Homo sapiens: one gene and its partners. The protein of the gene in region 5 interacts with the protein of the main gene of each other region in a pairwise test. Each region holds a gene or a part of one and is shown on either strand. Other genes may lie near its edges. The genes, in order: PSME3IP1, BANF2, HTT, KRT38, PSMA1, TRIM54 and KCTD13.

Region 1 (3,500 bases), on a different chromosome or scaffold from region 5:
CACTTCTGATTTAGCAGCACTCAATGACTCCAGCCAGAGGCTCATTACTGAAGCAGAACTGTTCAGTCTCTGTGAAAATGCCAAAAATTCCTCAAGTTCTACAGAACAACCTCTTATGAAACCAGAGCCAACAATTTCTTAAATGTCTCTGGCAGAGAAAACGTGAACTTTCTAGGGCTCTAATGGTTGGGAGAGACATTCCGAACCCTCAATTTCCCCCTTTCTTATCCCCTATTAACCGTGTCTCCTTTCTCATCCTGTATTAATCATCTGGTTTCTTTCCATCACCCATTTTTCCTAGTAAATAATTCAGGGTGGGATAGTCCTTATAGCCCACCTAATATGATAATCCACTCGACATCTGAATTTACCATACACACCCAGGAGAAGGTCATCCAACTCATATATTAAAACTTCAAGAGGGACCACTGCATTCCCTTCCTAGGCAGCCAACTCCCTCTCTAAGCAGATTTGACTGTTAGGATAGTTCTTCCTTAAACTGAACTGAAATCTGTTTTACTATAAATTCAATACATAGGTTCAATCCACTGGGACTATACAAAAAGAATCAAATCTTTTCTAACATGACCATACTTCAGTTGTTTGAAGACAATTCCCATGTTCCTCCTAATTTGTTGCTTTTCTGAGCCAAACATTCCTAGTTACTTTAATTTTATAAGATGGAGAAAAATAATCATGTCTGAAGGAAATGAATTTATCAGATTAGATATGATTTAAACCTGGGAAATAAATACTAGGATACGGCAATGCCATTGGTGTCCCAGTAAATGTCTCTCTTCATTCTTGTTATATATATATAATTTTTTTTTTTTAAGACAGAGTCTCGCTCTGCCGCCCAGGCCGGAGTGCAGTGGCACGATCTTGGCTCACTGCAACCTCCGCTTCCCAGATTCAAGCGATTCTCCTGCCTCAGCCTCCTGAGTAGCTGGGATTACAGGTGTGTGCTACCATGCCCGGCTAATTTTTGTATTTTTAGTAAAGATGGGCTTTCATTATGTTGGCCAGGCTGGTCTCGAACTCCTGACCTCAGGTGATCCACCGGCCTTGGCCTCCCAAAGTGTTGGGATTACAGGTGTGAGCCACTGCACCCGGCCTATATTTTTAAAAGAGAAAATTTAAAAATCTTCCAATATGCCAAAAACAACAACAACAACAATAAAAACAAACCCTAGAATTTTACATTTCTACCTAAATAAGAATTCAGAGAGCCTCCTGGGCTCAAGCAGTTCTCATGCCTCAGCCTCCCGAATAGCTGGGACTACAGGCATGCACCACTACACCTGGCTAATTTTTTTTTTTTTTTTTTTCGTGAAACAGGGTTTCACCATGTTGCCCAGGCTGGTCTCAAACTCCTGGACTCAAGCAATACAATCTGCCCACCTCAGCCTGCCAAAGTGCTGGGGTTATAGGCATGAGCCACTGTGCCCGGCCTACAATCTTTTATACACAGGGACAAAACCAGAAATCAGTTGGTTAATGAAAATAAGAAATAAAGTAAATGCATATTTAAAAAAAAAATTTAAAGGCAAGCGTTGCAGGGGAAAGAAAAATACAAGAAATGTATTTCTCATCAGCTCTCAGTGGGTTGGTGTCCTGAAAACACAGTCACACTGTCAAAACTAATGCACACTTACAAAAGTCTGCTCTTTAAAACTAATATCTTAATTCAGGCTGGGCATGGTGGCTCATGCCTATAATCCCAACACTTTGGGAGGCCAAGGCAGGAGGACCAGCCTGGGCAACAAAGTGAGACCCCCCATCTCTACAAAAAATTTAAAAAACTAGCCAGGCATGGTGATGTGTGCCTGTAGTCCCAGCTACTCACAGGCTGAGGTGGGAGGATCATTTACTCCAGGAGGCTAAGGCTGCAGTGACCCATGATCGCACCACTGCGCTCTAGCCTGGGCAACAGAGTGAGACCCTGTCTCAATAAATAAATTAATTAATTAGTAATAAAACTAATATCATAATTCTGGCATTCCCTTGATCCCCAAATAAAGAAAATAAGCCAAGTTAGATGGACACACATAGTAATAAATTTCTGTAAGTTTAAAAAGACTAGACTAAAACATAGACTGCTTTATGCATCTTTTTTCAAATTAGCATTTTCTTCTGTAGGTCTTCATTCTCTGCATGGCTTTGCTCAGGCTGTTCCCTCTGCCAGGAATGCCCTTGCTTTCTTTTCACCCGATGCAAACTGCTGCTCCAACCGCCCAGAATCAGACTAAAGACCATCTCCTTTATGAAGCTTTCCAAGACCTCCTAGAGTAGTTAATATGTATTTCCTTCCTTTGTGTTCCTGCTATGATCATTCATAACTCTACTACAGCCCTTATTCTTTGTGTTTTATCATCTGTGACTGTTCCAACAGCTCTTTGTCTCCACAGTGCTTATTATTATTAGCACAGTGTCTGGCATATATTAGGTATTCAAATACTTACTGAATAAACCAACCACGAGGAGCTGAAGAATCTGAGCAGGGAGGAATGAACTCACATGAATATTCCTAGGTACTGTGCAATGTAAGTTATAGAGATTGGTAGCCATCAAGCAAGTATTTGCTGAAGTGTCAGTATCATGGGAATTCTATTCAAACGCCATACAATTTGTGCAGTAAGAAACAAAGGACTAAAAATTAAATCTCTTTACTATATTATATAATTGATGTCATCTTTCAAAAATAACTGCTACTTTCCGTTAATTTCAACTGATTAAAAATGGTCACTTATCCTGCGAAAGCAGTACTTGATGGAGACAGCGTTTTTGTTTGAAGAGTCCAATGGCTGTTTATTCTGCAAGAAAGAGGTGATAAGTACCTGTAACTTACTGACCTGCTGGAAGTAGACAAAGAAGCTAGAAAATTAGATTGTGTTGACTTCTAATTCCTATTGTCTAGGTAAATTTTCACAAGTCTCTTCTTTTTCCCTTTTGTTTGCTAGGGTAATTAAAAACAAATCAAAAGACAAACAGCCCAGGGATATCAGGGATACGGGCTCTAACTGTGAAGAGCCCTGTAGGAATGCAGAGGACTTACATTAGGAATGCTTACTTTGTCCTTACTGTGTTCCACTTTAGAAAGAGTAAACAAATGCTGTCAGCTTTCCTTTACTCACGTTTTCCAAAGTGACTCAAGTTTAATTATCAAACTAAACATTACATTATTTTTTAAAGGATTTATTCAATTTCTTCAAATAGGGAATTCATGGAAAACTAAAACCATTTCAAAATTCACTTTGTCCACCAAACTTAGAGTCCAAATTGGCACAAATAAAGAACGTGGTTTTCAAATCTGCCTGACCGTCAAGAAAACAAAGTTCTTATATTTCAAGCCAAAGTAACTGGTAACACTGAACTACTGGGTTTACATTGGAGACCGTCCCATTTAATTTCCAGGGTGGTGGGACAAAATGGGCTCAGTTCTTACATAGCACACTACACATGTTTTAAAATACAAAACTTACATTGTTGCTCCCCAAATA
Region 2 (4,021 bases), on a different chromosome or scaffold from region 5:
GCACTGACAACGTCAGTTGTGCTTCCCCAAAACGTGGCTCAGTTCTGGCAATGAATAGATCCTCAGTAAAGCGTGCTGGTTGAACCCAGAGAGCTCAGCCAGCTTTGGCCCCAAAGCTACAGCTCCTGTTTATTCTCCAGCAACCCCTGAATACTGCCATCAGCTGGCAATACTATTTCAGGATCAAACCTAAGATACCAGCACCCTTACATGTTCTTAAAGTGTGTAGTCTCAGAGCAAGCAGCCTCAACGTCATGTGGGAACGTGTAAGAAATGTGAATTATTGGGTTCTCCCCCAGACCTAATGAGTCAGAAACTTTGAGAGTGGGGCCCAGGAATCTGTATTTTAACGAGTCTTCCAGGTCATTCTAATGCAACCTACAGTTTAAGACCCACTGTTTTGGACTCTAAAATTTAGGGCCACCCAACAGTTTCCAAAGCGAAGCCGTTTGCTCTTGGTTAGAACTCCTCCATCCCCAATCCCAAGCACCAGCAGCAAAAGGGAATGGAATCTCTGGAAACATTTTATACTTTGCCCCCTTTTTTGAGTTTTTCTTTTCTTTTTAGGCTTAGTAAATATACATTGTACCAAGTTATCAATTACCAACAATGGAAAGTAGCCCAGGCATATATGCTATAGAGGATAACCTAAAAGACACCTGTGTTGAATTTAACTTGAAGGTGGGAGGATTTATATTTCTGCTTGTTTTCCTGAGCTAATATTTAAGTTACTTCTCTTTCCTTGAGTCCCTACCAGGTGGGCAGTAGGGGGAAAGTCACGGGTATACTGGTAGAAGAAAAAGCTGCCCTGGAATTTCAAGTCCATCACAGAAGATGTGCAAGGAGCTGGGGGTACCCACGGAAGTCACTTTGTGCAGGAAAACTGCATGAAGGATGGACTTGGTTTAACTGAATTGACGCAGGCCAGGTGAGAATAGGAACCGTGGCAGCAAGTGGCAGCAGGTGGATTCATAAGCAGTCTTCCAGGCTGATGTTTTCTGTACAGCAGACATCCCTCACTCTTTCCCAGCAACCCCAGCTGAGAACAGCACCCAGACAGGCTGATTTCTTCTGGAGAGGCCTGAGGCTCTTGCTCCTGCCCTGCCCTGTGCCCTGATGCCAGCAGCCACTGCAGCCCTTTTTGTGCTCACCCCCGACCTGTGGTGTGACATCACAATGTAGTCCATTCAGGATCTTGAGACTGATTTGCCCCATGGGCCTAAGACATAAGCTGAACCTCTGGCCTGCAGTTCCAGATCCAAGGTGACTGAGACAAACTGCCAGCTGCCACTGGCTTATCAGGAGCACCTGGTGAGTATTCAGAACTTTCCCAAGCAGCATGGAAGGAGATACAGCCAACAGCTGGCTGTCTTAGCACTTTAAGGTCTCATTCTCACACAGGTTTAGATGAGCCAAACCGGTGGACAGGAGTTCACCAGGTAAGCCCCAAACTCTTCCTAGGAAAGCTGACTCACCTGATGCACACACCCCTTCCCAGCCTCTTCCTGCTGTGTCACCATCTGCGGGAGGTGGTACTCTAGTCTCCCCTAAGACTCGGCTTGCCACCTGCACCAGCTCCCTGGGCAAAGGTCACCTGTGTTCTTAATAGAGCAGAGAGGCCAGGCTTTCAGATGGCAAATTCACTAGAGCATCACTTCTAGCCCTAATTGAGGTCAGGGACAGCCATTGGCCAAATGACACACCACATAGCAGGATGAGCAGAGGTAGCTGACACAGCCACCTCCCGTCCAAAATGTGAACGACGGTCCTTCCTTTCTGTAAGAGGCCTTCCTGCTTTGGCTGTTTTTAAATCCACCTCCTGGTGACCTGCTGGTATATCAAATCACTTCCTTTCCTTTTGGGACAGTAAGAGAGCTTTAGGATCGTGACGGGAAATAAGGAGATGGATTAGAACACCAGGAAAGTGGGCAAAATCTAAGGTAGCGGGGACAGGGACAGAGGCCAAAGCCATCTCTCAAAGAGGATGCTGGCTCTTTCCATATGGGCCACCTGCACTCGGCTGAGGGTGGTTTGAGACTCAAGGCCTTCTATAACAAACAGTAGGGACCCGTTCTGGGCCCCAGGAGGCACAGCTGCCTTCCCTACCATGGCCCATTCGTGTTTTCCCACAGTCTGTCTACGGTCCATTCACCATCTGTGAGTGCCAACACGTCCACACAGCTGCAGCTGCGTCCCTTCTCCCACAAAGGAGTGGCTTCTATAGGGACCCCATGATTTTAAGAAGGCTCCTGGCTCTCCTTGACTGTGTAAGGTAGAAAGGGAGGTGGTGGGGGGTGGATCAGAGAAATATTTTACCCTTAGGCTTTGCCATCCCTCCTTAGTTTTATATGTGATGGGCTGAAGCCAACCTCTGCTTCACACACAAATCCAAGACGCCAATGGTTCACCAAGCATGCTAAGAACATTTTAGCCTATGTTAGGCCCCACTGGAAAAGGAAAAAAGACAGTAGAGGGGCCGGCGCTAGAGCAACCTGTGGTCCCCGTCCTGCAGCAGGTTTAATTTGGAGAGGAGAAAGGGAGCAAACGCTGAACCTCCCGTGCCAGACCCACCAGCTATGTTATTGCTCTTAATTCCGACCTCTGTGAAGCAGGTGTTCTCAGGTTCATTCTACAGACATAGAAACTGAAGACTGTTCTGTGCTGGTGCCACGTCTAAAGAGGGTCATTAACCTGGAGCATGCCTTCACTCTCTATCGACTATCCCCAACATTAGAGCTCTCTGAAAAGAGAATGGGCTGCTTTGCAAGGCAGCAAGAGTGTGCAGGCCACGGCTCTTCCATCAGCATGGAAGGGAACGGGATTCTTGTGATCAGCTGGGAGCTGGACCAAAAGACCTTTAAAGGCTGTTTCCAAATCCAAGATTGTAGGTTTCTGGGTGTTAGTACTTTGCCCACCCTCTGCGATTGAACTCAGGTGGGTCACGCCTTAAGGACGGCTGCAAACTTTCTGTTAGGCAAGGAGAACTGGGAAGAACCATAGAGATCAGCTACGGGCCCCAGGTAGGAAAGAGGAACCCAGGCTGGTTGAGGGAGTTTTCCAAGGCTCCAGAGCCAATTTGCAGAGTTAACCTGTGTTGACTGAACAAATGGAGGAGCCAGTTCTGAGTGCTGATCAAACGTTCCCATGCCCATCTCTCTCATTCACCTGGTTCTTTCCTATCAAGATTATGATTCAGCCACCATTTACAAAATGCCTGCTGCATGCCAAGTGTGTTTCCAGAGATTATTCCACCTACTCCTCCCCAGCTCCATGAGGTGGGTGTCATCAGCCCCGTTTCTCAGATGAGCATGGTTAGGTAACCACCCCAGAGGATCAGGTACTTGTGGAGATGTCATAAATACTAAATGACGAAGCAGGTCTTTCTAACCCCAAGGAAAACTTATGTCTCCATCTGCCGCCTCCCAGCTTGTGTGAGGAAGCAGGGTCTCCTTTCTTAGCCTTTCCCTAAGGCAAACTGCCATCGATGTGCCAAGTTCCACAGTGCCTATTTCCAGCTCCTCTTGGACGTTGCCCTGATGGATGCTGAACTCCCTGTGGGCCCGCCTGTTTCACTGGCCCGGCCCCTCACTCTGATGGGGCAAGATGGAGCGATGTCTATACACGGACAGATGTTATGCACCAAGGAAGAAAATCTGCTAATCGAAAGCAGCTTCAGCTAATTGTGGCACTCTCCCTTCTGCGTGGTGCCCTGAAATAGTAGCCATGCTCTGTTCTTTTTTCACATCAGGGAGCCCCAACTGGCAACTTAAATGAGGTTGCAAAGAAGTCAGTTACACAGACCTCTGCTGCCAGTTTCCATGGATGAGGCCTTGCTGATGCTCCTTGGATAGGACCCGTGTGCAACTGTTTGTGGACTTGGCTTCTTGCTGTGGATAATTTGGACCCACTGTTGGGCTGGAAAAGCCTCATTTAACCCTGGGGAAAACTGGAACCTTCAGAAATTTAATGGAATACTAAGCCCAAGAACACATGGTCTGACCTTGAACCCTGGTTCTGATCT
Region 3 (3,500 bases), on a different chromosome or scaffold from region 5:
ATACTCCCCAAGTTGATCTACAGATTCAACACAATCCCTCTCAGAATCCTACTTGGCTTCTTTGTTGAAACTGACAAGCTGATCCTACAATTCGTACGGAAATGCAAGGGACCCAGCATGGCCAAATCAATCTTGAAAAGGAACAAAGTTGGAGAACTCACATTTCATGAATTTAAACTGTGACACAAACTTCAGTAATCAAGACTGTATGGTACTGGCACAGGATCGACATAAAGACCAACAGGTAGAACTGACAGTCTAGAAATAAATTTATACAATTAAGGACGATTAATTTTCAACAAGGGTACTAAGATAATTCCATGGGGAAAGAATAGTCTCTTCAACAAACAGTGCTGGGACAACTGAATAACCACATGGAAAAGAATAAAGTTGGACTTCTACCTGAACCATATATAAAAATTAACTCAAAATGGATCAGACTTAAATGTAAAACTCTAAAATTCTTAGAAGAAAACATAGGAGTAAACCTTTTTGACTTTGGATTAGACAATGATTTCTTAGATATGACACTTGAAGCACAGCAACCAAAGACAAAATAGATAAACTCGACTTCATCAAAATTAAAAACTTTTACACTTCAAAAGACACTATCAAGAAAGTAAAAAGACAATCCAAAGGAAGGGAGAGTTTTTACAAATCATCTATCTGATAAGAATCCAGTATCCAGAATATATAAAGAACTATTACAATTCAACAATAAAAATACAAAGGGAAAAAATGAGAACAAGGGTTTGCAAGGTAAGTATAAGAAAGAGCCTGGGTTCTGACCGGGTGCAGTGGCCCAAACCTGTAATCCCAGCACTTTGGCAGGCTGAGGCGAGTGGATCACCTGAGGTCAGAAGTTCGAGACCAGCCTGGCCAACATGGTGAAACCCCATCTCTACTAAAAACACAAAAATTAGCTGGGCATGGTGGTATACGCCTGTAATCCCAGTTACTTGGGAGGCTGAGGCAGAAGAATCACTTGAACCCAGGAGGTAGAGGTTTTAGTGAGCTGAGATCACATCATTGCACTCCAGCCCGGGTGACAAGAGCGAAACTCCGTTTCAAAAAAAAAAAAAAGAAAGAGCCTGGGTTCCTTAACTTATTGTTGAATTTCCCCAGACTTATTTTTGTCTTCTGATAAGCTCTTGCTTGTTACCAGTTTAAGCTATTGCAGCAGGATTTTCTGTTACTTGCAGCTGAATACAAACCTGATAACGCAAGCTACTGCTAAATTGTTATACTTAGCAGAGTTCAACAAGTGCAGTTGGTTCCGCATTCAAAATCCAGTCAGTCATTCCTCACACTGCCCACAGCCGACAGCCGGTACCCTGACAGAACCCACCATGCTTATCTGAGCACTGCAGTGGCTTCCTAACTGGTTTCTGCTTTTGCCGGTGTTCCCCTTCACTCTGTTGTCAGCCAGAGTTCACTTAAGATTGAAATTCAGATCATGCTACTCCTCTGCTCTAATCCTCCAGTGACATCCCATCTCACTCACATAAATGCCAATATCTTTATTCCATCTACAAGGCAAGTAGTATTGGTCTGATATGGCACTCCCTTGACCTCTTGGACCTTACTTCTTACTACAAATGTCCCCCTCACTCAATTCACCCAACTAAAATGACATCCTTGCTATTCCTGAAACAGGAAGATTTTGGACCTGTTCCCCCCATCTGGAATACCACTACTTCATACACCCTTACACTAGACTCTTAACTCGCTTGAGGTCTTTACTCAAAAGCCATCATCTGGCCAGGTGTGATGGCTCACACCTATAGTCCCAACACATTGTGAGGTTGAGGTGGGAGGATCACTTGAGCCCAGGAGTTCAAGGCTGAAGTGAGCTACGATAGTGATACTGCATTCCAGCCTGGGTTAAAGAGCAAGACCTTGCCCCCCAACCCCAAAAAAAAAAAAAAAAAAAGCTGTCTTCTCAGTGGACCTTCCCTGAACACCGTATTTAAAATATCAACACTGGCCAGGTATGGTGGCTCATGCCTGTAATCCTAGCACTTTGGGAGGCCAAGGCAGGCAGATCACATGAGGCCGGGAGTTCGAGACCAGCCTGCTCATCATGGCAAAACCCCATCTCTACTAAAAATACAAAAATTACCCAGGCGTGGCCGGGCACAGTGGCTCATGCCTGTAATCCCAGCACTTTGGGAGGCCGAGGTGGGCGGATCACAAGGTCGGCGGATGACGAGGTCAGGAGATCAAGATCATCCTGGCTAACACGGTGAAACCCCGTCTCTATTAAAAATACAAAAAAATTAGCTGGACGTGGTGGCAGGCGCCTGTAGTCCCAGCTACTTGGGAGACTGAGGCAGGAGAATGGCGTGAACTCGGGAAGCGGAGCTTGCAGTGAGCTGAGATCGCGCCACTGCACTCCAGCCTGGGCGACAGAGCAAGACTCCGTCTCGGGGGAAAAAAAAAAAATTACCCAGGCATGGCAGTGCATGTCTATAATCCCAGCTAAACAGGAGGCTGAGGCATGAGAATCACTTGAACCCAAGAGGCAGAGGTTGCAGTGAGCCAAGATCACACTAGTGCACTCCAGCCTGGCTGATAGAGCAAGAACTGTCTCAAAAAAAACAAAACAAAACAAAATAAAATAAAAATGTCAACACTTAGTGCTACAGCTCTTTTGGAATTTGTCTAGCAGGCTTTCTGGGTTTTGCTGGAAAGCCCTTAACAATTTTTTTAAAAATAAAAATAAGTTAACACTCGATTAACCCTGACATTTCCCTATCCCCTTCCCTGCTTTGAAGTTCCTCCACGTATTAACGTACTGTATATTTTACTTATCTATCTTGCTTACTGTCTATGTCCTTCATTAGAATGAAAGCTTCACGAGGGCAGAGCTTTGTCTGCTCACTGCTGAGCCCTGCACCTATAACAGTGCCAGGCACATAGTACATGTTTAGTAAATATTTACTGATGAATGAATAAAGTCAGGGAAACACCAGATAGGAATCTGAAGGAGAATAAGAAACTGCCAGAAGCAAGTATTAATTGCCTCCTAATTACTGTGAGGACCCTCCCAAGCATGCTAGATTTGCTGAGCCTGCAGCCAGCCCCATAAGGAACTCCTGCATCCTGTATGCTGAGCAGAGCACAAACACTCATAAACTGAGGCCCATGCATGGCGTGACACCACAGTTCCACACCAAAGAGCAAGAGCCATAAAAACAGAACAGATACTTTCTAAATTGCTTTCATCAATCTTACTTTGAGAAGAGGATTTTTTGGCTGAAGCACGTGAACAGAACTGCCAAAATCCAAACTTTGTGAGCAGTGTTTGTTACTCAAAATTAGTGAATACCTCCTTTCTCAACAGCAAAATACAGAGAAATATGACAAATATGCATTTTATTTAAAATAACTATAAAACTATAAATAAACCTAATGCAGTTGATTTCAGAGCATGCTAAGAACCTTTAAAAGTTATTATTCTAGCCAGGCATGGTGGCTCACACCTGTAATCCCAGCAC
Region 4 (4,284 bases), on a different chromosome or scaffold from region 5:
TTTGCCGCTCCAGGTCGGCCCGGATCTCAGACAGCTGCTCCTCCACGTTGCTGATGAGGCTCTGCATCTGGGCCAGCTCCGTGCCGAAGCGGTCCTCGGCTTCACACAGGGAGTTCTGCAGACAGTCCTTCTGTAGTGGGAAATAAGGGGATAAAATATACAAGGCCCCAAGGGAAACTGCTACATGCCTCAAATTTTGATGGTGATAACAGGTGGGAGAAACTTGGGTAGTGAGACCTCCAAAATAAAATGCTACTAGGCCATGGCACGGGGCATTTGCAGTGCAGTGAGAGTGAAGGACACGTACCAAGGTGTGCTGGGCTTGGCGCTCCACCTCCAGGGCATTCACCGTGCATCTCAGCTCCAGGATCTCCGACTGGCAGCACTGCAGCTCCTCGGAGCAGGACATGTCCTGCAGGCTGATGCCTTCAGACTGGAGCACAGAGAGACACGGTCACCTCCCTGCCCAGATGGAGGCCAGGTACCCCCTGGTTCTATACCCCCCCCACTCACCTGGGCTTGGAACCACTGTTCCACATCCTGGCGGTTGGTCTCCAACATGGCCTCATACTGAGCCCGCATCTCCCCCAGCACCCTGTTCAGGTCAATGGTGGGCTCAATGTCCAGCTCAATCCGGAGCTTCTCCCCCAGCTGACTCCTCAGAATCTTTACTTCCTGCAGAAGGGAGGAAGGGACAGACAGCCTGCATGAGGAAAGGGCCTTTGATGGAGCAGACAGCACCAGGACCCCGCCCCTGGCAAGCAGTAGGAGGGGAGTCCCACACACAAGCAAATGGGAAAGTCTTGCCCAGAGGGCATTCGGGAGAGCCCACCTGCACACCTTCCTCATGCCCAAGGCAAGTCTGCACTTTCCACAGAGGCCCTCTGGACCCTCAGACCCACCTCAGCCCTGCATCCTGATGCCAGCTGAGGCCAGGCAATGCTCTGAGAGCCCGGGGCTGGGGAGCTCCCCTGTCTGCCCAGTGCCCTCCCCAGGAGTTTGAGCGCCCAGGGCCACACCTGCTCGTGGTTGCTCTTGAGGGAGAGCTGCTCCTCCTTCAGGGACTCCTGCTGGGCCTCCAGGTCGGCCTTGGCCAGGGTCGCATCATCCAGGAGCTTCTGTGTCCCACACTTGTCTGCCTCCACCAGCTGGCGCAGGGAGCGCTCACTCTCCAGCCTTTCATCACAGGAGGTACAGGGTCAAAAAGAATGCCCCCAAGAGCCCCTCTCGGCTGCCCTGGCTTCCTACCTCCCACACCACCTTGGATCCTCATTTATTCACTCTGTTTAGCCCTCTGTCCTCAAAGGTGAATTAGACCCAGCCCCTCTTCTCAAAGAGCTCATGGTCTAATGGAGAAATCACAACACTACATTGCACAATATACATTTTTGCCATTGTATTCTGTGGCAACTGCAGTTCAGGAAGATCAACTGACTTGCGTAAGATCATGCATCTTGGGACCCAGTCCAACGCTCATGCCATTGCAGGGGCTGTCAGTTACCAAAGATAAGCAATAACCAGGTGCCTGATCGTGATCTGCGGCTCCTTATCCCTTGCTTTCAGCTGTCTTCCCCTCTCTCATTTTTGCCTAGGTACCTTATACCTGGTACCTTAGGGCTCCCTAATTAAATCTGGACAAAGACTCATCTGTAAGTGACTCCTCTGACTTATATATGAAACCCAATGGCTGTCTTGCTCAGTTCATCCTTCAAATCACCTCATTTTGCTCCTGGTTAATGAACTCAGGCTGCCTTATCCTCCATTTTAGGGAAATAAATGAAGGAAGACAAACATATATGCTTGGATTAATGAGGAGTTTTCCCTTCCATCTTCCATCAGCTTCGATTGTAATGAAAATTTTACTGTAGAGAATCTAGCAAGGAAGAAATGACAATGATTCCCTCACTCAACAAGTATTTGGGCATTGGGATGGAGGGTGGGGAAGGAGTCACCCTGGCCCTCCTCCGCCTGACTTACTTGATCCTAAAGTCATCGGCAGCCAGCTTGGCATTGTCAATTTGTACAATCAGCCTGGCATTCTCGGCCTTGCTGCACAGGATCTGAGGAGAACAGGAAGACAGTTCACACACAAAGCATCATGCCCTAGGCTCCTTCTCCACGTGTGGTGTCTATGATCATGTCCAAGAGAAACCAAGAACCCAAAGTTCTCTGAGCTTTACATGGATTCCTCCTGTCTTGCCTCTGCCATCTCAGACCCAGCACACCCAAGCGATCCCACACCTCACCTTCTGTTGGAGCTCCTCGATGGTGTGGAAGTAAGACTGGTAGTCGGGGCACACGGTGGACTCGTGGCACTTGCTCCTCTCGAGGAGTGTGGCCTCCAGCTCCGCATTCTCCTGCTCCAGCTGGCGCACCTTCTCCAGGTAGTTGGCCAGGCGGTCATTCAGGAACTGCATGGTCTCCTTCTCATGGCCATTCAGGGTGTTTTCACCATAGGCCCCACAGATTCCAATGTTGCCAGGAATGTGGCAGGTCCCTGGCAAGGGACAAGCAGTGTGGCAGGTAGGCGGCAGACAGAGGCTGGGGCGGCCCAGGGGAGTGGACCCCACACGGACTCGGTTGGCATGTGCCACGTTGGCCAAAAGGCACATGGGGGCAATGTTGGCCTCTGCCCCAGGCTGGCACCCAATGTCGATGGGAGAGACAGAGACATTTCTTGCTCCAGGAGCCATGGTGCAACCCAGAGGGCATGAGGAGCTGCTGTAGGAAGAGGTCATGGTGTTGGGCTGAGGCTGCACAGGAGCTTCAGATCAGCTGGGAAAGCTGAACCACTGAGACTGAAGCCTCCTCTCCTCCCAGCCCTTTTATACCCCATCCTGGGCGGGTGTTGGCTCCAATGCTTTGACCTCCTGCCTTGATTATCTACCTGTTGTGGTGCCATCATCCTGTTACTCAGCTGCTGAGTTTACCATGAAAAGTTTCTCAGCTCGTTAAAGGAATGTTGACGAATCTGAGGCCTCTTGGCTCTTTGAAATCAGGTTGGCTGTTGATGGGAGGTCAGAAGCTTTTTATTATCTTTCAAAGAAGCAAAGTTATAGCCATCAGATGCTTAGACCTTGACTGGGTTTGGCCTCTTTATGGATGTGTCCACTCTGGAGACACAAACTTTCCTGTTGGTCAGTGGTGTAGCAGGAGGACTAACCCCGGTGATGACAATGGTTCTCACTTGGGTTAAGACTCAACCAGCCTTCCCTATCCAGGGAAGAAACTGAGTCTTGGAATTGGTGGATGTTATGGCCTTGGGTTATCAAGAAGTCCTACATTTCTTCTTTCTTTAGTTGGTTGCCTTTCAGACTCACTTTGAGGAGCAACAAGACTTAGATGAATCCAGTCACTCAAAACACATCCCCTGGCTACGTCCCATATGCTACGCACCTTGCTGATGCTTGATATATAGTTGGTTAAGCACAAAATAGTTCCTGCCATTGGGGAACAACTGTAACTTGGGTAGACGTGATGTTTCAAACAAGGTATCTGAGAAGCTCATGAAAATGAGGATGACTCCAAAAACCATGGCTTATCTCGACCAAGAAGGGCAAGCTCAAGAAGCCAGAAATAAACAAAGAGAAATGAGCAATAATCTTACTGAACCTCAAATAAGAACTTGGTCATGAAAGTCAAAGGACATTGAGTGATCAGAGCCTCTGTGGGCTCTCTTCATACCTTGCTTCCTTTATTCTAAAGTCAGTCATGAGCCTTCACCCTATGAGCTAGGGGATTGAGCAATGATACCTTTTAATCTTTACTTCCAACCTGGGAGGTGGGTACTCTTAATTTTACAAAATAAATAAACAAGCCATTGAGGACAGTTTTCTAAGATCAACCTCACTATAAAGTATAAAGCCTATTCTCAACATCAGCTTCTTTCAACTCCAGAAACTGTTTCTTCACCTTGACCACCTCCAAATCCTCCACCCCAAGGATAACTACTGTGTCATTGCTAGAACTAAGAAGGATTCAAATTCCTAGAAACCGGGCAAGAAGTTGAAATTAAGATGTAAAACAAAAATCTGACATTGTGTATTTTTCCCTTTGTATCTCAGAAAATACAGATGTGGAGGTATTCATACAATAAAACAGAGTTTCTCCAAGGGCTAAATCAGAAGATGCCAGGGGAAAGTCCTGTCCCTAAAATGGTTATATTACACATTCCACATTCAGATAGTTCTTGGTACTAGGGATCCAAGACACATGGCTGCTGAGATCCCAAAACTTTTCTCCCAAAATTTGTGACAGAAGATACATAGACCCCTGAGACTAAGA
Region 5 (3,006 bases):
CTCTAATTTCAGTTTACATGGTCTAAGATAAAAATGGTTCTGCAATACCTGAGTATGCCACTCATGGGAATAACAGAAGGCAGCCTAAAGATCATGCTGGAGTGGGGCTGGAGAGGATAAAAGGTTTGGGATTACAATTTCCCATGTGTTGTTTTTACAGAAGTTCCCTTCAAAGACCAGAGCTACAACTACTGCCATTTGCTGGTTGGAAAGAAAACCATTCATATGATAACTGATGCTTATATCAGGAAGTGGTGGTTTCTTAAGTTTTAATTAAAATCACCACAGTTGAACCCTGAAATTTGTATTCTAAACCAAATCTCCATGGATTCTCATGCAGCCAGTTCATACACTGGAGAACTGTTATAAGGCTATGACAGATAAGAGGTATTATTTTTCTCCATCACTAAAAATAAGGCAATTTAATTAGGCAAATGACCAGTTGTAATCCCAGACTACTATATAGAGTTGAAGCTACTTAAAAAAACAAAAACCCAATATACCAGGCGGTGAAACAATTTTATTTCACAGTTGTCTTTAAAACCACAAAGACACCTATGTTCTTCATATAAAAACATTAGTATAGATACCCATACTTTCTAGAAAATGATTATACAGACCCTTTCAAAGAAAAATGTATTCCATTATATAGGTTTCAGTGAGGTTGCTTGGAAAAAACTCACATCTGGACTGATTCCTAAAACATAGCATTCCACCACTCTGCAACTTTTGGTTCAAAGTATAGATTATTGTCATCAGTATGTGGTGCCTGTATTCTTACATATTTGATAATACATATATAGACTGGCTTATCACTTAATGTTCCATTGGTTCATCAGCCTTTTCTGCAGGTTCATCAGCAGGTTGAGCAGGCTTAACAGGGAAAGAAAAAAAGAAAATATGTAAAATGAACACTTGATCAATATACACATCTAATCACAAATATTACGTTATTAAAAATTGAGAAAAAGGGGTAAAGAGATATTCTGAATACTCAGTTTTAGTTCACTGTCCTGTTAACATTTCTGAGCAGTATTTTTTTTCTCCTTGAGTGCTCATGATTTGAGGGAATAAAGATTTTTTATTTAAAAAAAATACAGTTGGCTCGAACAACAAAGGTTTAAACAGTGAGGGTCCACTTATATGCAGATTTCTTTTTCTTTTTCTTTTTCTTTTTTGTTTGCTTTTACTCTAACATTGTTTAGGGTGAAGCTTTTTTTTGTTTGTTTGTTTTCCAATAAATATAAACTAGCAGACCAACTGTGTAGCCTAGAAATATAAAAAAAAAGAGTAAGAAAAAGTTAGGTATGCCGAATGCATAAAATATATGTAGAAAATAGTCTATTTGGTCGGGTGCAGCAGTTCACACCTGTAATCCCAACACTCTGGGAGGCTGAGGCATGAGGATTGCTTAAGCCCAGGAGTTTGAAACTGGCCTGGGCAACACAGTGAGATCCCATCTCTACTAAAAAGAAAAAAAATGTGCTGGGCATGGTGGCACACACCTGTAGTTTCAGCTACTTGGTGGCGCGGGGGAAGGTAGGAGAATCGCTTGAGCCCAGGAGTTCAACCTTGCAGTGAGCTATGATGGCACCACTGCACGCCAGCCTGGACAAGAGGGCAAGACCTTGTCTCAAAAAACAACAAAAAAGAAACTAGTCTATTTATGTGTTAATTGTCAGTTTATGTTATCAGTAAGGCTTCCAGTCAACAGCAGGCTATCAGAAGATTTTTAGGAGTCAAAAGTTATATGTGGATTTTCAACCATGCTGGGGTTTGGCACCACTAAACCCCACACTGTTCGAGGATAACTGTATATATAATTTCACATTTCTGAAAACCTAAATATCATTGAACAATTCCACCATTTTATCGTACTTTGCATTGCTCAGGAATAAAAGCTTTCCTTGTATTATCACTACTATGTTTAAAATACAATCAGCACTTTTTAGACATTCTTTTCCCCTTTGCCAAACTAGTTTGTGGTATTCCACAGCATTCTTCCCAACAGTGCTAGTTTTTACCAAAAACAGTTTAAATATTGCAAATCTTGATCCCCCAAATAGTACCAACAATATCCTTTCCAAGTTAAAAAAACTCATGCTGTAGAAATTTCCATACTAGATTCTTTTTTACTTTCAATTACACTGCTATCAAATAAGCATCTATAAATAGCAAATGTATATTCTAAACATCTAGCAAAAAGACCCATATTTCACCTGAGATTCACTTCTTGATGCTTTTCTCTTTATGAAGAGCCATCTTAGTGTCCAAAGCTGGCCCCCAATGAGCATTTCTCCCAGTCTCTGCTCAAACAGAATCTGGGCCAGGCCAGTGACTCACTTTAACCAACAGAATGTGTACAAGTGATGTTGTGCCAGTCCTGCATCTCAGCCTTAAGAATGCCTGGCGGCTTTCACTTCTGACTTTTGCAAGCCCTGAGTTGCCAATATGCTAGAGAGACCCTGCTGAAGAAGCGGCCCTGAAACTACGTGGACAGAGGCTCAGTCATCCTAGCAGAGGTCTCTGCCTTCTAGATGCTCCTCTAAGACACCTAAAAGGTGTGAGTAAAGAAGACATGTGACTGAAGTTATCTTGGGTGTTCCAGTTGCACCCCACAAATGACTGCAATGTTTGAGAGATCCCAGGTGAGACCAGCAAAGAACCATGTAGGTGAGCCCCAGTCAGCCGCAAAATTGTGAGAAGTAGTGTTTGTTGTTCTAGCCCCTAAGTTTTGGGGTAGCTTATTACCTAGCAATAGATAACCAAATAATCAACACTTCTCCCTTTTTGTGTTTGTTTTTTTTTTTTGAGACAGAGTCTCTCTCTGTCGCCCAGGCTGGAGGGCAGTGGTAGGATCTCAGCTCACTGCAACCTCCGCCTCCCGGGTTCAAGCGATTCTCCTGCCTCACCTCCTGAGTAGCTGGGACTACAGGTGCATGCCATGACGCCCAGCTAATTTTTGTATTTTTAGTAGAGACGGGGTTTCACCATGTTGGCCAGGAT
Region 6 (3,500 bases), on a different chromosome or scaffold from region 5:
CCTGTTTGATACCTTCTGGCGTTTGTAAATGGTGGGCAGTGGGGCCACCTCACAGTCCTTGTGGGCACCGAAGACCTTGCAGAGAGAGCAGGTGGGCACCTCACAGCTCAGGCAGTAAATATTGATCTTCTCTTCTTCATGCTCCTCGCACATGAGGTGCTGCTCAGCCTTGGAGTGCAGCGGCCTAGAGAGGAGTGGGCAGGGGGAGGTGGACCTTAAGCATGAAGGGTCCTAGGAATACCTTCTCTTCAGCCTCCACCAACTGCCACCACCTTCTCCGCCCCTGCAGCTAGTGCTGTGGCTGAACTGGTGAGTACTTCCACAGAGCTCTGAATTTGGGGAACAGAAGGAGCTAAGAGATAGAGGAGGCCTGGATCCGAGAACAGTCTGTATTACAAGGGGGCAGGGAAGTCCCACAGGACAGGAAGTCTTGGAGGGTTAGCGAGGATCTTGCTGGTGGACTGCCAGCCTCTCCCAGGAGGAGAGGGTAGGAGTGAAGTACTGGCTAGGGAATCAGAGACTGCCCTCTCTGGGAGGCCTGAGGCAAGTCCCTCTCCGGATCCAGTCCTATGGTCTCTAGACAGAACAGGCAGGTTGACCGTTTCAATCTCTCCCTTTTGGCTCTGATGGGTTCCTTGGCTGTGTCCCAAGCCCTGTCATGAGAGAGGCAAGAGACTCTGGTGGCTCACCTGGATGACTCCTGCTTGTAAATGTCGATAATGTTCTCCACTAGCAGGTTTCGCTGCAGGCCGTAGACACCGTGTCTGTCCAGGACAACCTCATGCCTGCACGATGGGCAGCGGAAACGGCCTCCTGAAGACACAGTGGTGGAGCCCCGGGACTGCCATAGAGGATTCGAGGCCTGCAGGGACAGATGGCTTGAGAGAACAGGCACGGGGAGGCATGAAGGGACTCGGAGGAGGCAGGGGGAAAGGGCTTGGGGGCTAGGGAGTAGGAACTTGATGGAGGGGAAGATGTCAGCTCTTCTCTGTGGCTGGATCCACCTCTGAGAGCAGCGCACGGTGGACGGCCATGGAGACCCTGCTTCCCACCTTTGCCTCATTATTCAGCCCACCTCCTAGAGTGCCCCTGCATCCAGAACTCAGCTTTGGTCAAGGCATAGTCAGGATGGGATCTCTCCAAAGGGGTCCAGCTTGGAGCCATGGGGAGACATTGGTCTTGGCAATAAGGCTGAGGCAGGAAATGAACTCTGAGTGGTGCGACCAATGTCTTCCAGTCTGGGGCCCTCTTGGGCCACAACTGGAGGAGATTCTCTGCAGTCCTGGGCAGGGGTACAAGCAGATACAAGTGCTCAACAATGGGGTTCACAAACTGTAACTAGCCAGGTAATTCTAGAAAATTGCTCCAGGAACTGGAAGTCAGGAGTCCTGGGTTCTTGTGCTATCTCTGATGCCCTCCCCCCGGCCTTTTTTTTTTTTTTTTTTTTTGAGACAGGTTCTTTCTCTGATGCCCAGGCTGGAGTGCAGTAGTGGGATCACAGCTCACCGCAGCCTCGACCTCCTGGGCTCAAGCAATCCTCCCATCTCAGTCTTCTGAGTAGCTGGGACTAGAGGTGTGTGCCACCATGCCCAGATAATTTTTTTTATTTTTAGTAGAGATGAAGTATCACTATGTTGCCCAGGCTGGTCTTAAACTCCTGACCTCAAGTGACCCTCCCACCTCGGCCTCCCAAATTGCTGGGATTATAGGCGTAAGCCACCATGCCCAACCTCTTAAGTATATAAATTTAGGCAGGTATTCAACCTCTGTAAAGCTGAGGATAAAATTATTCATTTATAGTGTGCCAGGTAGTTGCTGGACTCTGAGTTAAAGATACAAAGAAAATGCATCCTGTCCTAAGGACAAGCACCTGACAACTGCATCCAGCAGGATGGGTGTTGTGATAGGGGTAGGCTCAGAAGGAGGACTTAACAGACACCCATCACTTCCTCCGGCTTACATCTCTTGCCTAGAGTAGTTGCTCCATCCTATCCTAGAAGGGAGATCCCTGCCACAGATGATTGATTCAGAGCTAAGGAGGTGATCACCTGACCCAAGCAGAACCAATCAAATATTCTCTCCTAAGAATTTGGACTTGAGACTCAGGGGCTTAGCTGGCTACGCCATGTTCTGCTTAGGAATTGAATAGACCTGTGGAATTGGGCTAAGAGCTGACATCACGGCCACCCTGGAAAGTGTAAGGGGTCAGAAACTGAACAGAGAAGGCTGGTCTACAGAGAAAAGAGTCTATGTGTGGGGAGATGCAGAGATGAAAGACTGGCAGACACTGCTTATTGTACCCTGACGTTCACCACCTTTTCTTCTTTAATAATAAGTGCCCTGAGTTTTAACAAGACACATGGTATAAAGGGCTGGGTGTGGTGGCTCATGCCTGTAATCCCAGCACTTTGGGAGGCCGAGGTGGGCAGATCACTTGAGCTCAGGAGTTTGAGACCAGCCTGGGCAACATAGCAAGAACTCATCTCTACTAAAAATAAAAAAATTAGCTGGGCACGGTGGTGCACACCTGTAGTCCCAGCCACTTGGGAGGCTGAGGCAGGAGAATTGCTTGAAACCAGGAGACAGAGGCTGCAGTGAGCTGAGATAGTACCACTGCACTCCAGCCTGGGCAACAGAGGGAAACTCCATCTCAAAAAAACAAACCAAAAAACCCATGAATCTAAGCCTCCCTTCCAGCTGGGTGTGGCCAATTGGCTGTGCTCTGGGATGTAGATGCAAATGTTTTGTGTAATTTGTAGGAAATTGCACAAACCGTCTTTCATGGGAGGGGCATGCCCTGCTCCTCCCCTTTTCTCCTGCCTGCTGGCTGGAAAGAAGACGGGATGGCTCAAGTTGAAGCAGCCGTCTTGAGCCATGAAGTGGCAGCCACATGTTGAGAATGGTAACGAGATGAAAGGAGGTCTCTGATGAGGCAGTCCTGCACTGTCCACCCATACTTTCACTTGAGAATAAAGCAAATTTTTACCCTCTTTAAGCCACTGTTATTCTGGGGTTTCTGCCACTTAGAACAGAACCTAATCCCAACTGGCTGGAAGATTATGCATTCCTAGAGAGTAATGGAGACAGTGGTCACCTATGAGCTAGCATAGTGAGATGCACTTCCTACAACTGGGATGCATGAACTTCTCCAAACCCTTACACCATACACAAACCAGAAGACAGTTTGGAAGGCCCCTTGCGTGTGTGCAGCAACACCCCATCATGCACAGAGTGCAGCCAAGTCAAGGGTCTTGTTTGATCCTTTGGTAGCAAGGGCTGTAGGCAAGGCAGGAAACGTGGACCCACTGTGAAGTGAGCAGCTTATCTTGGGGAGAGTAACTGGTGTGTGCCATAAATATCACATCTTTCTTGGGATTTCTTGAGAATCATGTTAACCTTTAAGCCCATCATAAACCTGGGGCAGATTAGTTTGAGATAATTCAAGGCATGTTTGTACATCTGCCTTCTCAGTAGCTAGAAATGTATGAATATTGTTGAGT
Region 7 (3,388 bases), on a different chromosome or scaffold from region 5:
TAGCTAAAGACAGTGTTTTATCATGTGTGGTGGAGGGGAGGGGGTTTGCATCAGCAGCGAGGTGTTAGTTCCTTGAGGGCAGGGCCATGTCTTTTTCTTTCCTATCTCCCATTAGCTGGGCCCTTTTCACACAGTGGAAGCTAGGAAACATTTATTGAATGAATGAATGAATGAATCAGTGACCCAGCTTCCAAGAAACATCCTCTGATTGGGAAGATAGGAAGATAAACCAATAATTAGAGTGCATGGCTCACACCTGTAATCCCAATACTTTAGGAGGCTGAGGCAGGGGACCATTAAGGCCAGGAGTTTGAGGCCAGCCTGGGCAACACAGCAAGACCCCATCTCTACAAAAAATAAAAAAAAATTAACTGGACATAGTGGTACACCCAGGTACTCAGGAAGCTGAGGTGGGAGGATCACTTGAGCCCGGGAGGTTGAGGCTGCAGGGATACATGATCACACCACTGCACTCCAGCCTAGGCAACAGAGTGAGATCTTGTCTTAGAAACAAACAAACAACGATTAAAAAAAAAAAAAAAAGGCCGGGCATGGTGGCTCACACCTGTAATCCCAGCACTTTGGGAGGCTGAGGCGGGCAGATCACGAGGTCAGGAGTTCGAGACCAGCCTGTACAACATGGTGAAACCCTGTCTCTACTAAAAATCCAAAAATTAGCTGGGCATAATGGCACATGCCTGTAATCCCAGCTACTCCGGGAGGTTGAAGCAGGAAAATCGCTTGAACTTGGGAAGTGGAGGTTGCAGTGAGCTGAGATTGTGCCATTGCGCTCCAGCCTGGGTGACAGAGCAAGACTCTGTCTCAGGAAAAAATAAAAAATAAAAATAAAAAATTAAAAAAACAGTTTGCTAAGAGCTGTGTTAGATGCTTCCAAGGCCACACAAGGGAACACCCCAGTCACCTCTTCGACTTCATCCCTTTCCATTCCCTCTCATCTCTGCCTCAATTGCATTGGCCTCCCTTTTGATCTTCCAGTAAGACACTGGGTGCACTCCTGACCCACAGCTCTCACGCTGGCCCTGGCCCTCCCCAGGCTGCTCTTTCTGCTCTGTGTGCCTTGTCCCCTCCCCCACTCCTTTGGTCAAATATCACCTTCTCAGTGAGGCCTTCCCTGGAGTCCTTCTTAAAGTTGTAACACTCCTGGCTCTGGCTATCACATCCCCTTTTCCTGATGTATCTCTTTTCCTGATGTATCTCTTTCTCTCTCTCTCTCTTTTTTTTTTTTTAATAGATGAGGTCTTGCTACATTGCCCAGGCTGGCTTTGAACTTGAACTCCTGGGCTCTAACGATGTTCCTGCCTTAGCCTCCCAATGTGCTGGGATTACAGTCAGGAGACACCACACCCAGCTTATATCGTTTCCTAAACATCATCATTTGACTGCATTTATATTTTATTTTATTTATTTATTTATTTATTTTGAGATGGGGTCTCACTGTCACCCAGGTTGGAGTGCAGTGGTACAATCTTGGCTCACTGCAACCTCCACCTCCCATGCTCAGGTGATCCTCCCACCTCAGTCTCCCGAGTAGCTGGGAACACAGGTGTGGGCCACCACACCTAGCTAATTTTTTGTATTTTTGGTAGAGATGGGGTTACACCATGTTGCCCAGACTAGACTCAAACTCCTGGCCTCAAGCTGTCCTCCCACCTTGGCCTCCCAAAGTGCTGGGATTACAGGCCTGAGTCACTGCGCCAGGCTAGTTTATATTTTCTTAAGTGTATGACTGAGTCCTCCCACTAGAATGTAACCTCCTGAGGACAGAACTCTTGTTTTGTTCACTGCTATTTTTGCAGTGCCTAGAACAATACCTGGTGCAGTGCACTCACTCAGTATTTGTCAAATGAAAAAATATACCAAGAGGCTAGGCAGGGAAGGAGATGAAGGAGAGAAAACAAATAATTCTGCCTGCCTGACTTCAGAGCTGAGCCTTGAAGTATGACTTTGCTGAGTAAAGGAGTGGCAGAGAGGCCAGGCCAGGCCCAAGGACCTGACTGCAGGGCTAGGAGGTGTGTTGGTGCAGGGGCCCTAGGCAGGGGGATGGCCCTGCGTGACTGCACCAGAAGGAAGGAGCTGGGGCCGGCTGGCCTTTTGCAGGTGGAATTTCCAGAGGCCCGGATCTTCGAGGAGACCCTGAACATCCTCATCTACGAGACTCCCCGGGGCCCAGACCCAGCCCTCCTGGAGGCCACAGGGGGAGCAGCTGGAGCTGGTGGGGCTGGCCGCGGGGAGGATGAAGAGAACCGAGAGCACCGTGTCCGCAGGATCCATGTCCGGCGCCATATCACCCACGACGAGCGTCCTCATGGCCAACAAATTGTCTTCAAGGACTGACCTCTGACCCTCCCCCTGCCTTCCTCTTGCCTTGGGACCCAGTCCCTCTCTCTTTCCCTCCCCTTCCCAGACTTTTGCCCCGGCTCTGCTGGCCAAGTCGTGGGTCCTCCTCTGTCCCTTCATTGCATGGCACAGCTCACTTTGGCCCTTCTCCACCCATCCCAACCCCATTGCTAACAACATGGTACATTCCGGCCCCACCACTCAGAGCCTTCCGAAGCCAACACTTGTCCCCACCCTGGCCCTGCGTCCTTCCCTCTCCAGCTGGTTAAGAGGGATTTAGAATTCCCTTTCTCTTTTTTTAGTGCATCGTCCATGCCAAAGTGTGCGGCCCTTCCTGACATCACCACAGTCTGAGCAGCCTCCCGCGTCCTGCAGGGTAGTCCGCCCCCTCCTCCCCACCATCCTCCCTACCTCCTTAACTTTGTACTAGACTGGCCTGGGCCTGCCCAGCTCAGCGTTATCAGTCTGTTTCATATTATTTATTATTTTAATTTTCTATTAAATTATTGAAATAAAGTTAAGTTGAGAAACTGGTGCTGGCTCCTGGGGAGAGGGACGGGGAGATGCCTGTGTTAGGAGGTATCTGGCCGGGCGTGGTGGCTCACACGTGTAATCCCAACTACTCAGGAGGTTGAGGCAGAAGGATCACTTGAGCCCAGGAGTTCAAGACCAGCCTGGGCAACAAAGCAAGACCCTGACTCTACAAAAAAAAAAAAAAAAGAAAGAAAAAAAAGGAGGTACCTGTTTGGTTGTACTAGGAGAAGACATAAGGCCCTGCCCCAGCCTCTCCCTGCGAAGGAAGTAGTCGGGAGTTAGGAGAGGATTCAGAATTTATATTTCAGTGCTCACTAGCCAGTTCCCATCCTCCGCCCCCGCCCACCCCCGCAGTAGAGAGGAGGTCCTGGCTACCATCAAGCCGTCCCTGAGCGCAGTGTCTCTCCAGCCTGGGTGTGTGAAGGGAGCACCTTCCTTCAAGGGTCTGGGGCGAAGACAAAGTCGAGGGCCTGGCGCTCAGCCCCTGCCACGTTGG

The links.
Region 1: the proteins of PSMA1 (region 5) and PSME3IP1 interact in binary tests that used the Homo sapiens proteins (3 or more experiments, as listed by UniProt).
Region 2: the proteins of PSMA1 (region 5) and BANF2 interact in binary tests that used the Homo sapiens proteins (3 or more experiments, as listed by UniProt).
Region 3: the proteins of PSMA1 (region 5) and HTT interact in binary tests that used the Homo sapiens proteins (3 or more experiments, as listed by UniProt).
Region 4: the proteins of PSMA1 (region 5) and KRT38 interact in binary tests that used the Homo sapiens proteins (3 or more experiments, as listed by UniProt).
Region 6: the proteins of PSMA1 (region 5) and TRIM54 interact in binary tests that used the Homo sapiens proteins (3 or more experiments, as listed by UniProt).
Region 7: the proteins of PSMA1 (region 5) and KCTD13 interact in binary tests that used the Homo sapiens proteins (3 or more experiments, as listed by UniProt).

Annotation. Positions count from the first base shown.
Region 1 is NC_000016.10:57,176,040-57,179,539, forward strand, and holds part of PSME3IP1 (PSME3-interacting protein), read right to left. Parts: intron 2,814-3,500; exon of another isoform or gene 2,463-2,813; intron 1,115-2,462; exon of another isoform or gene 1-1,114. UniProt on the Homo sapiens protein: Promotes the association of the proteasome activator complex subunit PSME3 with the 20S proteasome and regulates its activity.
Region 2 is NC_000020.11:17,698,745-17,702,765, forward strand, and holds the start of BANF2 (barrier-to-autointegration factor-like protein), read left to right. Parts: upstream 1-1,221; 5' UTR 1,222-1,311; intron 1,312-4,021. UniProt on the Homo sapiens protein: May play a role in BANF1 regulation and influence tissue-specific roles of BANF1.
Region 3 is NC_000004.12:3,077,681-3,081,180, reverse strand, and holds part of HTT (huntingtin), read right to left. Parts: intron 1-3,500.
Region 4 is NC_000017.11:41,438,184-41,442,467, forward strand, and holds the start of KRT38 (keratin, type I cuticular Ha8), read right to left. Parts: upstream 2,801-4,284; 5' UTR 2,739-2,800; coding exon 2,247-2,738; intron 2,061-2,246; coding exon 1,978-2,060; intron 1,177-1,977; coding exon 1,020-1,176; intron 676-1,019; coding exon 514-675; intron 434-513; coding exon 308-433; intron 131-307; coding exon 1-130.
Region 5 is NC_000011.10:14,504,376-14,507,381, forward strand, and holds the end of PSMA1 (proteasome subunit alpha type-1), read right to left. Parts: intron 874-3,006; coding exon 817-873; 3' UTR 501-816; downstream 1-500. UniProt on the Homo sapiens protein: Component of the 20S core proteasome complex involved in the proteolytic degradation of most intracellular proteins. This complex plays numerous essential roles within the cell by associating with different regulatory particles.
Region 6 is NC_000002.12:27,295,929-27,299,428, reverse strand, and holds part of TRIM54 (tripartite motif-containing protein 54), read right to left. Parts: intron 863-3,500; coding exon 690-862; intron 185-689; coding exon 13-184; intron 1-12. UniProt on the Homo sapiens protein: May bind and stabilize microtubules during myotubes formation.
Region 7 is NC_000016.10:29,905,839-29,909,226, reverse strand, and holds the end of KCTD13 (BTB/POZ domain-containing adapter for CUL3-mediated RhoA degradation protein 1), read left to right. Parts: intron 1-2,118; coding exon 2,119-2,355; 3' UTR 2,356-2,888; downstream 2,889-3,388. Other genes in the region: ASPHD1 (aspartate beta-hydroxylase domain-containing protein 1), read right to left, coding at 3,330-3,388. UniProt on the Homo sapiens protein: Substrate-specific adapter of a BCR (BTB-CUL3-RBX1) E3 ubiquitin-protein ligase complex required for synaptic transmission.